2 linked regions of the Homo sapiens genome follow. The protein of the gene in region 2 interacts with the protein of the main gene of each other region in a biochemical or structural test. Each region holds a gene or a part of one and is shown on either strand. Other genes may lie near its edges.

What was found.
Region 1: the proteins of RCC2 (region 2) and ERG form a complex in vitro, tested with the Homo sapiens proteins (one large-scale study listed by BioGRID).

The regions. Positions count from the first base shown.
Region 1 is NC_000021.9:38,397,478-38,401,889, forward strand, and holds part of ERG (transcriptional regulator ERG), read right to left. Parts: intron 3,169-4,412; coding exon 3,097-3,168; coding exon of another isoform or gene 2,885-3,096; exon of another isoform or gene 2,595-2,884; intron 1-2,594. UniProt on the Homo sapiens protein: Transcriptional regulator. May participate in transcriptional regulation through the recruitment of SETDB1 histone methyltransferase and subsequent modification of local chromatin structure.
Region 2 is NC_000001.11:17,431,718-17,437,043, forward strand, and holds part of RCC2 (protein RCC2), read right to left. Parts: intron 1-5,326. UniProt on the Homo sapiens protein: Multifunctional protein that may affect its functions by regulating the activity of small GTPases, such as RAC1 and RALA. Required for normal progress through the cell cycle, both during interphase and during mitosis.

The DNA of each region.
Region 1 (4,412 bases), on a different chromosome or scaffold from region 2:
GCCCCAGCTACTCGGGAGGCTGAGGCAGAAGAATCACTTGAACTCGGGAGGCAGAGGTTGTGGTGAGCCGAGATTGCACCACTGCACTTCAGCCTGGCAACAGAGTGAGACTCCATCTCAAAAAAAAAAAAAAAAAAAAAAGAAGAGAAAAGAAGATAAAAGAAAAGAAAAGGTAGGTTGGGGCAGTAACCCAGGGATGGGTGACTCACAGTGGGAAGGGAAGGAGGGAAGGGTGGTGAGGAAGTGCTGGGAAGGTGGATGCAGCAGGACAACACACATGTGTAGGAGTCTCTGCAGAAAGGGTGCGGAATGCTGTCTAATTTAACCAGTAAACCCTGAACACCACTGTCTCCTCTATCAGGGACTCTATAATGAAACGGCCACCATGCAGAGAAGAGACAGATTCTGGTCTAAGTAGAGTTGTTACCTAGGAGCCTGGCTTGCTTCATGGTCAGCACAATAACGCTGACCAGAGTTCGGTTCCCTCGGATGTGGGATTAGACAAAGGGTATGGAAATGAAGATCATGGCACAGCAAACCAAGAGTGGAGGAGACAGGGATTTGGGTCTGTATCCCCAAGGACCTTCAAAGAAACAGTCAACAATCACCTTTCTGAAAGTAGTCAGGTACCCACTGACCACAGGGATATCGTCAGATTCCCAGTGACCTCCCTCTGGAGCTCGTTCAGCTCTGAAAGTTAGTGATGCAAAAGCTCTTCCCCCTCAGCCATCACGACGTTCATTCTCCAGTTGCAGGTTCACAGCTTTTATCTCCACAGGAGCAGTCCTTTAAGGTTGATCGCTTAGCAATGGATGACCCGAGGTGTATAACTAGTTCTTATCTCCAAGTTCAAGTCCCTGAATAGGGCCTACAGTAAATAGTCCTCTGGCTTGTTCAGTCTGCTTTAAATTCTTTACAGGTCAGATACCAATATTTGTATTGGTTCTCATAATCACAGTAGCAGTGGTCAAAACAGGTTATTTCAGGTACAAACTGAGTCGCGAAAACATACTTGACTAGTAGTGGAGCTGTGGAAGTGTGCTCTCTCCCAGGTCACGCTCAAATTATGGGCCCATGGAAGACCACCATCAGAGCGGCATGGGAGGTGTCTGAGTTTGCCACCCTTGCCTTCCCTGGGTTGGGCAGAGAGGGAGTCCCAACCAACATCCTCACAGTCACCCTCTTCTCCATCCACCTGGATGGGCCATACCTTCCAAATCCACCATATCCTAAAATGTGAAAACAAAGCAGCTCCAGGACCCACTGTCTTAACCAGGTAGCATCAGTCAGCTGGCTTGTCTGACAGAGAGATTGTGCCAATGAATTTGGCCAGTGTTGTGATCTTTTAACACAGTTTATAATACTAGCTCACAACCCCTGGCTTTGCAACTCAGTCAGAGGCACCTATGAGATGTCTTAACATAAACAAACAAATACAAAATTAAAAAGTAAAAAAATTTTTAAAACCCTAGCCAAATGTTTTGGAAATAGTTTTTATTTTTTTAGTTTATATGGAAATATTTTTTAAATGCTCACAGAATTACAAAATCTCTAAAGCTTGAGTCAAACATGAATTTCTATTTTCCACTCGCAATACACGTGGTGGATGTCTTTAGGACCAATCTTGCAGACTCTAGGCACTGGGTCTTGCCCATGTTTCAATGGCCTGTGAAATCTTTTACATGACAGAGATGACTTACTACCTCTTAGTACCCCTTAGCTGCTAAGCCTTTCCATCATGCTTCCCAGGAGCAAGACAGTAAACTTTTTCTCTGACGTTAGAGAAGAGAAAATTGCCAGCCTGAAGTCACTAGGCAGTAACCAGGGCAGTGTCAGTATTTGAACAGCCTGAGAAGCTTCCTCATTCATTCTCTTTAGCTCCCTGGGCCCCCAGTCTTTCTCATTAGAAAGAAAGAGTAGTTGCCAAGCCTAGATCTTGAACCAGTTCGAACTGAGACTTGTGTATTCCGGATATGTGATAGAGTTTAACATGAATTCTGGAAGCATGTATGAATATGGAGAAACCATCCCACCACCCTGAACACAATGTCATCAGCTGTGAGGCTGGTACAATGATACCTAGCTTATCGGGCTGATGTAAGTCCCAGGGAGAGGACAAATGCTAAAGGCAAGCTATACCCTTCTGGGAAATGCCCTCTCTCCCTGCTCATTATTCGTCTGGCAAACATCTAATTCCCCTTTGCCATGTGGCCATTCCTCTGGAAAGCATCTTTATGCCTTTCATGGGGGATTGAGTTCCTCCCCACCCCTGCTCCTACGCCCTGTATTGCTAGAAGTGGTTCCTCTACCATAAAATCTATCACATTAGGGAAAACATTTATGTGTACATATGTGTCTCTCTGGCTCTAGGTCACTCTACTGAAACATCTAGAACTGGAGGCAAAACATTTCGGTTTGTTCACCATCATACCATCCGTGGCTGGCACAGAGGAGGCACTCAGCAAATGAACAAACCAAGCTGAATGAAGAAGTAAACTTTCTGAAGACAGGAAGCTTACTGAAGCCTGGTTCATCTATATATTCCCAGAGTCTAACACCACGCTTGGCACTAATGGGCACTTGATAGATGTTTATTTTTGCATGAATGGCATGTAAATTTATTACCTAATTAAATCATTTGGAGGACAGGCAGTAAGATTCAGATGTAAATACTACTGGTTGCATGCTTCTGCTCTGCAAGACTGGCTTCTTGTGACATACTGATAATCGGTCACTGTGAATCTGGGGAGTGTCCTTGTTTTGTGCTCTTCCCCCGAGGAGGGACAGATCCTTCTGTTAGTTCAAAAGTCGGCCTATTCCTAACTGCCAGGCATCCAGGATGCCTTCTTTGCCCATCTGTCTTTCTGAAAAGCTAGTTAAAGGGCTAATCTGCTCTTAATTCCTTTAGTGTGGTCTTTGAATGAAATGGTTTGAGTGGATTTAGTCTCCAAATCAACAGAGGCAGAATAAGACTGTCTGGGACTGGCTTCAGCTCCGGGATCAGCTCTCTTTGTATCACGTGACTTAGGGCACGGATCTCAGCAGGACATCTGGGATGTCTCTCAATGAAGAGATCACACAGGGGTGTTTTCGTACCTGGCCTAGTTGTAATTCTTTGCGTAGCTTCAGGATATACTGAAGTATTTGGGAAAATAAAAGCTGCACCCCCTGCAGACAAAAGGAAAGACAAACATGTGAAGGTCTTTTGTTGTGGTTGTCGATCTCAACATCAGCGCCAAATCTACTTTTCCCTATGACAACAAAGGGAAGAGACCTCCTCAAACCTGCCTTAACAGAGCTCCGGAGAAACAGACAGGTGCACCTGTCAGATTCTCAAGATGGAAGTGAAACTTGGAGCCTTGGTGTACTCCTGTGCCCCGTTTGCTATAAAGCGTTTTGTGTTTTGATTTTATAACTTCTTGATGAAGCCCTATCTGTGTCCCCCTCAATCCCACTTCCCACTGGGCAATCTCGTTTTATTAAAAAATTATATGGTACATGTTTTATTTTTCAACTTGTATAAAAACCCATAATATATTTTACAGAGCTTTTGGAAAGTAGTATCAAGCAATTATAAGTATTTAGCCTAAGAGTATATGGATTTTATTAATAATTAATCCACATCTCTATTCAAATGCATTTTCCCTCTCTCTCTTTTGACCAAAACTCATGCTGTTAGCTGAGAAAATTCCCTTTTCATAGTTCAGTCCATTTGGAATTTGTTGTCTTGTTCATTGGTTTCTTCCGTGTTTAACAATAGCAAAATTTAATATATTTGGAGCTTTTTTGAAACTTTCACTCAATGGTTAAAGAACTCATAAATAAATGTGAAATTATCAGAAAATGTGCATAGCTCAAAGGTGTTTCCTAAGAAGGGGAAGTAACTTCCTCTAAGTTATCTGTTATTTCTGGCCACAAGGTCACTAATAGGCTGATGTGTGCAACCAAAATTATTGAAAAAGTGTACTACCAACTCGAAGCAGGTTTTTTAAAACTTCAGATTAAAAAGACAATGTGTTGAATATAGAAGACCATGATAAATGAGCAATTTCATTGTAATACTCAAACCGGGACTCACTCACATTTTATATTTTAAAATAAAATGGTAAATATTGGGAAAATTGCGTATTTCTATGTGAGGGCTGATCGTGAGTTAACTGGCTGACTTGCAAGGCTTTCTGGCACTTCCCGTCTCCCTCCCTAGCCCGAGTGATTGTGGAGGGTCCCTGCAGCTAACAGAGTGGGGTGAGCAGCCGGTGGCCATGCTTCCGGAACTCTCTCCATCAGGAAGGAGCAGATGGATGTGAACCAGGAACACATTCATCCACAGAAAACCCAGCCTCTGCTGTGAGCGGGGGGCGAGGGAGGAAGGTTAGCCAGGATGAGGCACGGTGTTAAACCCTACTTAGGCT
Region 2 (5,326 bases):
TTCCGTCACGCTTGCCCACTCCACCACATTATGTAACAGGAAAAAGATGGTCAATCTACAGGAATGCATCCTGCAGTCCTCATGAAAAGGGGAAGTGAGGCCAGCCGCGGTAGCTCATGGCCCGTCATCCCAGCACTTTGGGAGGCCAAAGTGGGTGGATCACCTGCGGTCAGGAGTTTGAGACCAGCCTGGCCAACATGGTGAAACCCTGTCTCTACTAAAAATACAAAAAATTAGCCGGGTGTCTGTAATCCCAGCTACTTGGGAAGCTGAGGCAAGAGAATCGCTTGAACCCAGGAGGCAGAGGTTGCAGCGAGCCGAGATCACACCATTGCACTCCAGCCTGGGCAACAAGAGCGAAACTCTGTCTCAAAAAGAGAAAAAAAAAGTTGGGGGGAGGGAAGTGAAACAACACGGAAAGGGAGAACAACTTTGGTTCATTTAAATTATTTAGAAAATGACCTTAATCAGAGGGTGGCCCAGCCCCTGCAGCACCCACAACTCAGGTTACTTGAATTGGAGCCTAGCTTCCCCTGGTTATCTGCCCTTCTTTGTTTAACTGGCAGGCCTGGCTGGAATATGCTACAGGTCTATATTCAATGGCTTCTGTTGAAGTCCCTGTGGAAGGAGAGGCCTCTGGGTCCTCTGCCCAAGCCTACCAAGTTGGCATGGAGGGGGCAGTAGAGACCCAGGAAGGGTGCTAAGGCACTGGAGACCAAGCTCCCAGGCCAGAGGGCAAGCCTAGAAAAGAGCCCTGGAATGCCAGCAACTGCAGACCAGGCAGGCGGAGGTTCATGGGCACCTGTGCTCAGTATGAACCATTGAAGTCAAACCACCCTACACTGAGATGCAACCACTGCAGCAAAACTTCACAGTGCTGAGGCCACACCAGAAGCCTCAGCTCCATCAGGCCAGAGGGCATGGTTCAGGGGCAAGTTCAGACAGCCAGAGCTTAACCGCAGTGGCCTTGGCCTTGGGGAGGGAGTTTCCTGGGTGACCTGGACATTTGGTCAAGGGCTCATGAAGACTGATCCATCAAGCTAGCTAAGCATTTATAGGCAAACCCAACCACGCCAATAAAAATGTATTTGTGGGCCGGGCATGGTGGCTCACGCCTGTAGTCCCGGCTACTCGGGAGGCTGAGACAGGAGAAGGGCATGAACCCGGGAGGCGGGGCTTGCAGTGAGCCGAGATCGCGCCACTGCACTCCAGACTGGGCGAAAGAGCGAGACTCCATCTTAAAAAAAGAAAAAGAAAAAGAAAAAGAAAAAAATATATATATACACTCACACACACATATATATACACACACACACACATATACATACGTGTGTATACATATACATATATACGTGTGTATGTGTGAAAAACCCCGGTAAACTGAGTCTACTCCAGTGACGGTGGTCAGATTCCTATGAAGGACATTAACTGTTATTCAAGTTTTTACGTCATGGATCCTATTTCCTCACACATTAGATGGAGGTTAGTGTATTTCGTTATTATTTACATAATTGTTTGCTCTAAGCTGCTTTCTTTTATTTCTCTATAACTTCTTTCCTCTGCCTTATGTGGAATTAACATTTAAATAGAGTAACAGAGAACTCCCAGCACCCCTTCTCACTTAAGGGGTGCTCCTCTTCCTCAGAGACCAGAAACAGCCAATCGTGGGAGAGACTCCCGCGCTTGCGGGCTCCACCCGGGGCGGCGGGGCAGGGCGGGGGTGCCAGTGGGTGTGTGGGTGTCTGAAGCTCAGTGTGCCCTCCCAGGCGGAATCCAGCCTTCCCTGATGGGCCTACGGATTGTTTTTTTGGACGAACTCAGTGTCTGCGACCCTGCTTGTGTATAAAGGCCACGCAGCAGACAGCCTGGCAAACAGTCTGCCCAATGAGATGAGTGATTTTCATGTCATTTCACCTGGCTGCCTCCAGCAACTTGGTCACATAACCTGGGCAGAGACACACAGAAATGGACAGAAAAGGCACTGAGCTTCTTCAATCAACAAAATGGGATTTCTAGTCTAAAGCAATTTTTGAATTATGATCCAAATGCAAGGTGCGCGTTTACGGGGCCCAGAGTCAACCTTTTAACATAGGTCCATGTAGAAGACCGCTGCTCCGGGGAGGTAAGACCCCCGGGAACAATGCCGGCATCGACCAATTACCTAAGGGCCATCAACTGAAACAGACTTCCGGGTTGGCTTTCAGTTTTATTTATTTGCTCCTTTCAGATTCAACACATCTGTCTCAGGGTCCACAAAACCTTGGCAACCCAAGACTGGAAAAACTACAAAGACCTGGGCAGCTTGCAACACTCACCTGTTTTGTAGGATCTGGCCAAGGCTGCTGCCTTTACTTGCTTTAGGAGGTTATGAAGTGCGCAAAGAATTAGGACTGAATCTACCCTAGTGTGACACTGCCATCAATATTTGGAGTTCCTGGCATGCAACTTCCCAAATCCTTGGAATCTCCAAAGCAATGTCTTTTTGTATGCTAATGACTGACACTGGCAGCCCCCAGGCAGCTTCCGGATGGGGCAGTGGGAGCCTAGGGACTTTCAGCCCCATCCTCCAACCTCAGGAGGGAGATGACTGAAGGTTAAAGTGATGATCAATGGCTTAATCTACCATGCCTACATAATGAAGCCTCCGTTAAAAACCTGTAAGGACCAGGTCACAGAGCTTGTGGAGAGCTGAACATGTACCAGGTGGGTGGTCTGCAGAGGGCACGGAAACACAGTGCCCCTTCTGCCACATCTAGCCTTACAGGTCTCTTTATCCATAGCCTTTGTAATATCCTTTATAATAAACTGGTGTTTCCCTGAGTTCTGTGAGCCATTCCAATAAATTAATCGACCCCAAAGAGGGGGTCATGAGAACCCCAACTAGAGGCTAGTTGGTCAGAAGCTACCAGGGACTGGACTTGCAACTGGTGTCTGGGGTGGAAGGACAGTCTTGGGGACTGAGCCCTCAAGATGAGGAAATCTACCTCCAGGTGGATAGTGTCAAGAGATGAACTGGAGGACACCCAGCCGGTGTGTGCTGCAGAACTGATTGCTTGCTTGATAGCAGGGGGAGACCTCCCTTTACGTCTAGTCACAGAAGTCTTGTGTTGGGAGGCGGGGCGTGGTGGCTCACGCCTGTAATCGCAGCACTTTGGGAGGCGGGCAAATCACGAGGTCAGGAGTTCAAGACAGCCTGGCCAACATGGTGAAACCCCATCTCTACTGAAAATACAAAAATTACCGAGCACAGTGACAGGTGCCTGTCATCTCAGCTACTCAGGAGGCTGAGGCAGGAGAGTTGCTTGAACCCAGGAGGTGGAGGCTGCAGTGAGCTGAGATCACACCACTGCACTCCAGCCTGGGAGACAGAGCAAGACTCCATCTGGGGTGGGGGGTGCGGAAGAAGTCTGGTGTTGGTTGTTGAGTGTGGCCGTGAGAGCGGAGGAAAAAAGAATTTGAATTTTTTCTTAACACCTAGGCAATGACAACGCTCATCTGCCATAAGAATGTTCTATAAAATGCACATCTTTTACTCAAGGCAATTCTGCCCCTCAACAATGTAAGTATTTGGCTCATCTTCTACAAGCCCGACACCTGCAGCTTTGGGGTCACTGAAGGCAATATGGTTTTGGACATTTCCTGGGCGGCTGCTTTCACACAGACCTCCTCCTAGCAACCCTGAGCGGGGCAAGGCATGCAAAATGCTCAGTAAAAAAGGTTCTTTCTGCAACAAGGACTGCTGTCTGCCTGTGGCAGCACACAGGGTCCCTAGGACTGCTCAACAGAGAAACAGAGACCAGAAACCTGGGGCCAGGGAGACTGGGCAGGAGGCCAACCCAGGACAAGGGGCAGAGGGCTGCCCTAGGCCTATGGAAAGGCAATGGGGCTGCATGGACCCAGCCCCGAACATGGACCAAACTCAGTAGATGCTAACAAAACTTAAACGTGGGGCACTTTGGGAGGCCAAGGTGGGTGGACCACCTGAGATCAGGAGTTCGAGACCAGCCTGGCCAACGTGGTGAAACCCCGTCTCTACTAAAAATACAAAAAATTAGCCAGGTGTGGTGGTGGGCGTCTATAATCCCAGCTACTCGGGAGGCTGAGGCAGAAGAATTGCTTGAACCCGGGAGGCGGAGATTGCAGTGAGCTGAGATCGCAACATTGCACTCCAACCTGGGCAACAACAGCTAAACTCCAGCTCAAAAAAAAAAAAAAAAAAGCAAAACTTAAATGTAGGGTGTGCACTTTCCATGAGGCATAAAGGGGCATCATATGCTGAACCCTCAGCCTCCCAGGTGCTCTGATTCTAGAACAGCACCGACAGCCCAAAGGATGGGCATCATGGGCCCCTGTTGGTTTTAAGTGGATAGAGAAAGGAAGATGTAGCTTTTAGAGTCCTGCTTATACACATATGTAAAATAATAACGTATTTATGTGTATAAACAGGAACTTAAAAGCTGCAATGGACTGCTGTTTACTCACATTAAGACTTACAAACATGCAACCCAACACAGGGCTCGCGCCTGTCATCCCAGCACTTTGGAAGGAGGCTGAGGCAGGCAGATCACTTGAGGCCAGCAGTTTGAGACCAGCCTGGCCAACATGGTAAAACCCAGCCTCTACAAAAAGTACAAAAATTATTCGGGTGTGGTGGAACACACTTGTAATCCCAGCTGCTCGAGAGGCTGATCAGCACACAAAAATCACTTGAACCTGAGAGGCGGAGGTTGCAGTGAGCTGAGATCGTGCCACTGCACTCCAGCCTGGCCATAGAGGGAGACTCTGCCTCAAAAAAAAAAGACTAACAAATGTGCCATTTCCATTGACAAAGCAGCTTCAAGCAGCACAGCTGGAGACAGAGGTGGGCCAGGGAGAGCCAGTGTCCCTCACACACTCCCTGTCTCTACCTCCTTGGGTCAATCTCAGCATGGGGTAAGGATCTTTTGCTCTGATGGCAAAATTCAGCGTTCCAACAGTCTGGAGCTGTACAGCTGATAACTGCAGTCTTGGATGTCTAAACACAATCTTGCTTTTGGAAACTCACTCAAAATAGGATACAGGAGACGCGGAAGCTCACCTGGCCTTTCTTTTTAGTTTCATCCTAACATACTGTGTTCGGAGGGCAAATGTCTGGAGTCTGGCACAGCAGACTAGACGTCAAAGGAAAACAGTTCCTGTGTTCCAGTTTCTCAATACTTTGGCCATTGTCTAGTCTAGCCTGATCCAAGACCCCGGGCAAGACCTTTTGACAGCTTTTGACGGGCTCTCCTCCACTGCCTAACATGTTAACCCTTTCACCCAGAAGGCACTTTTACAAAGCATATTC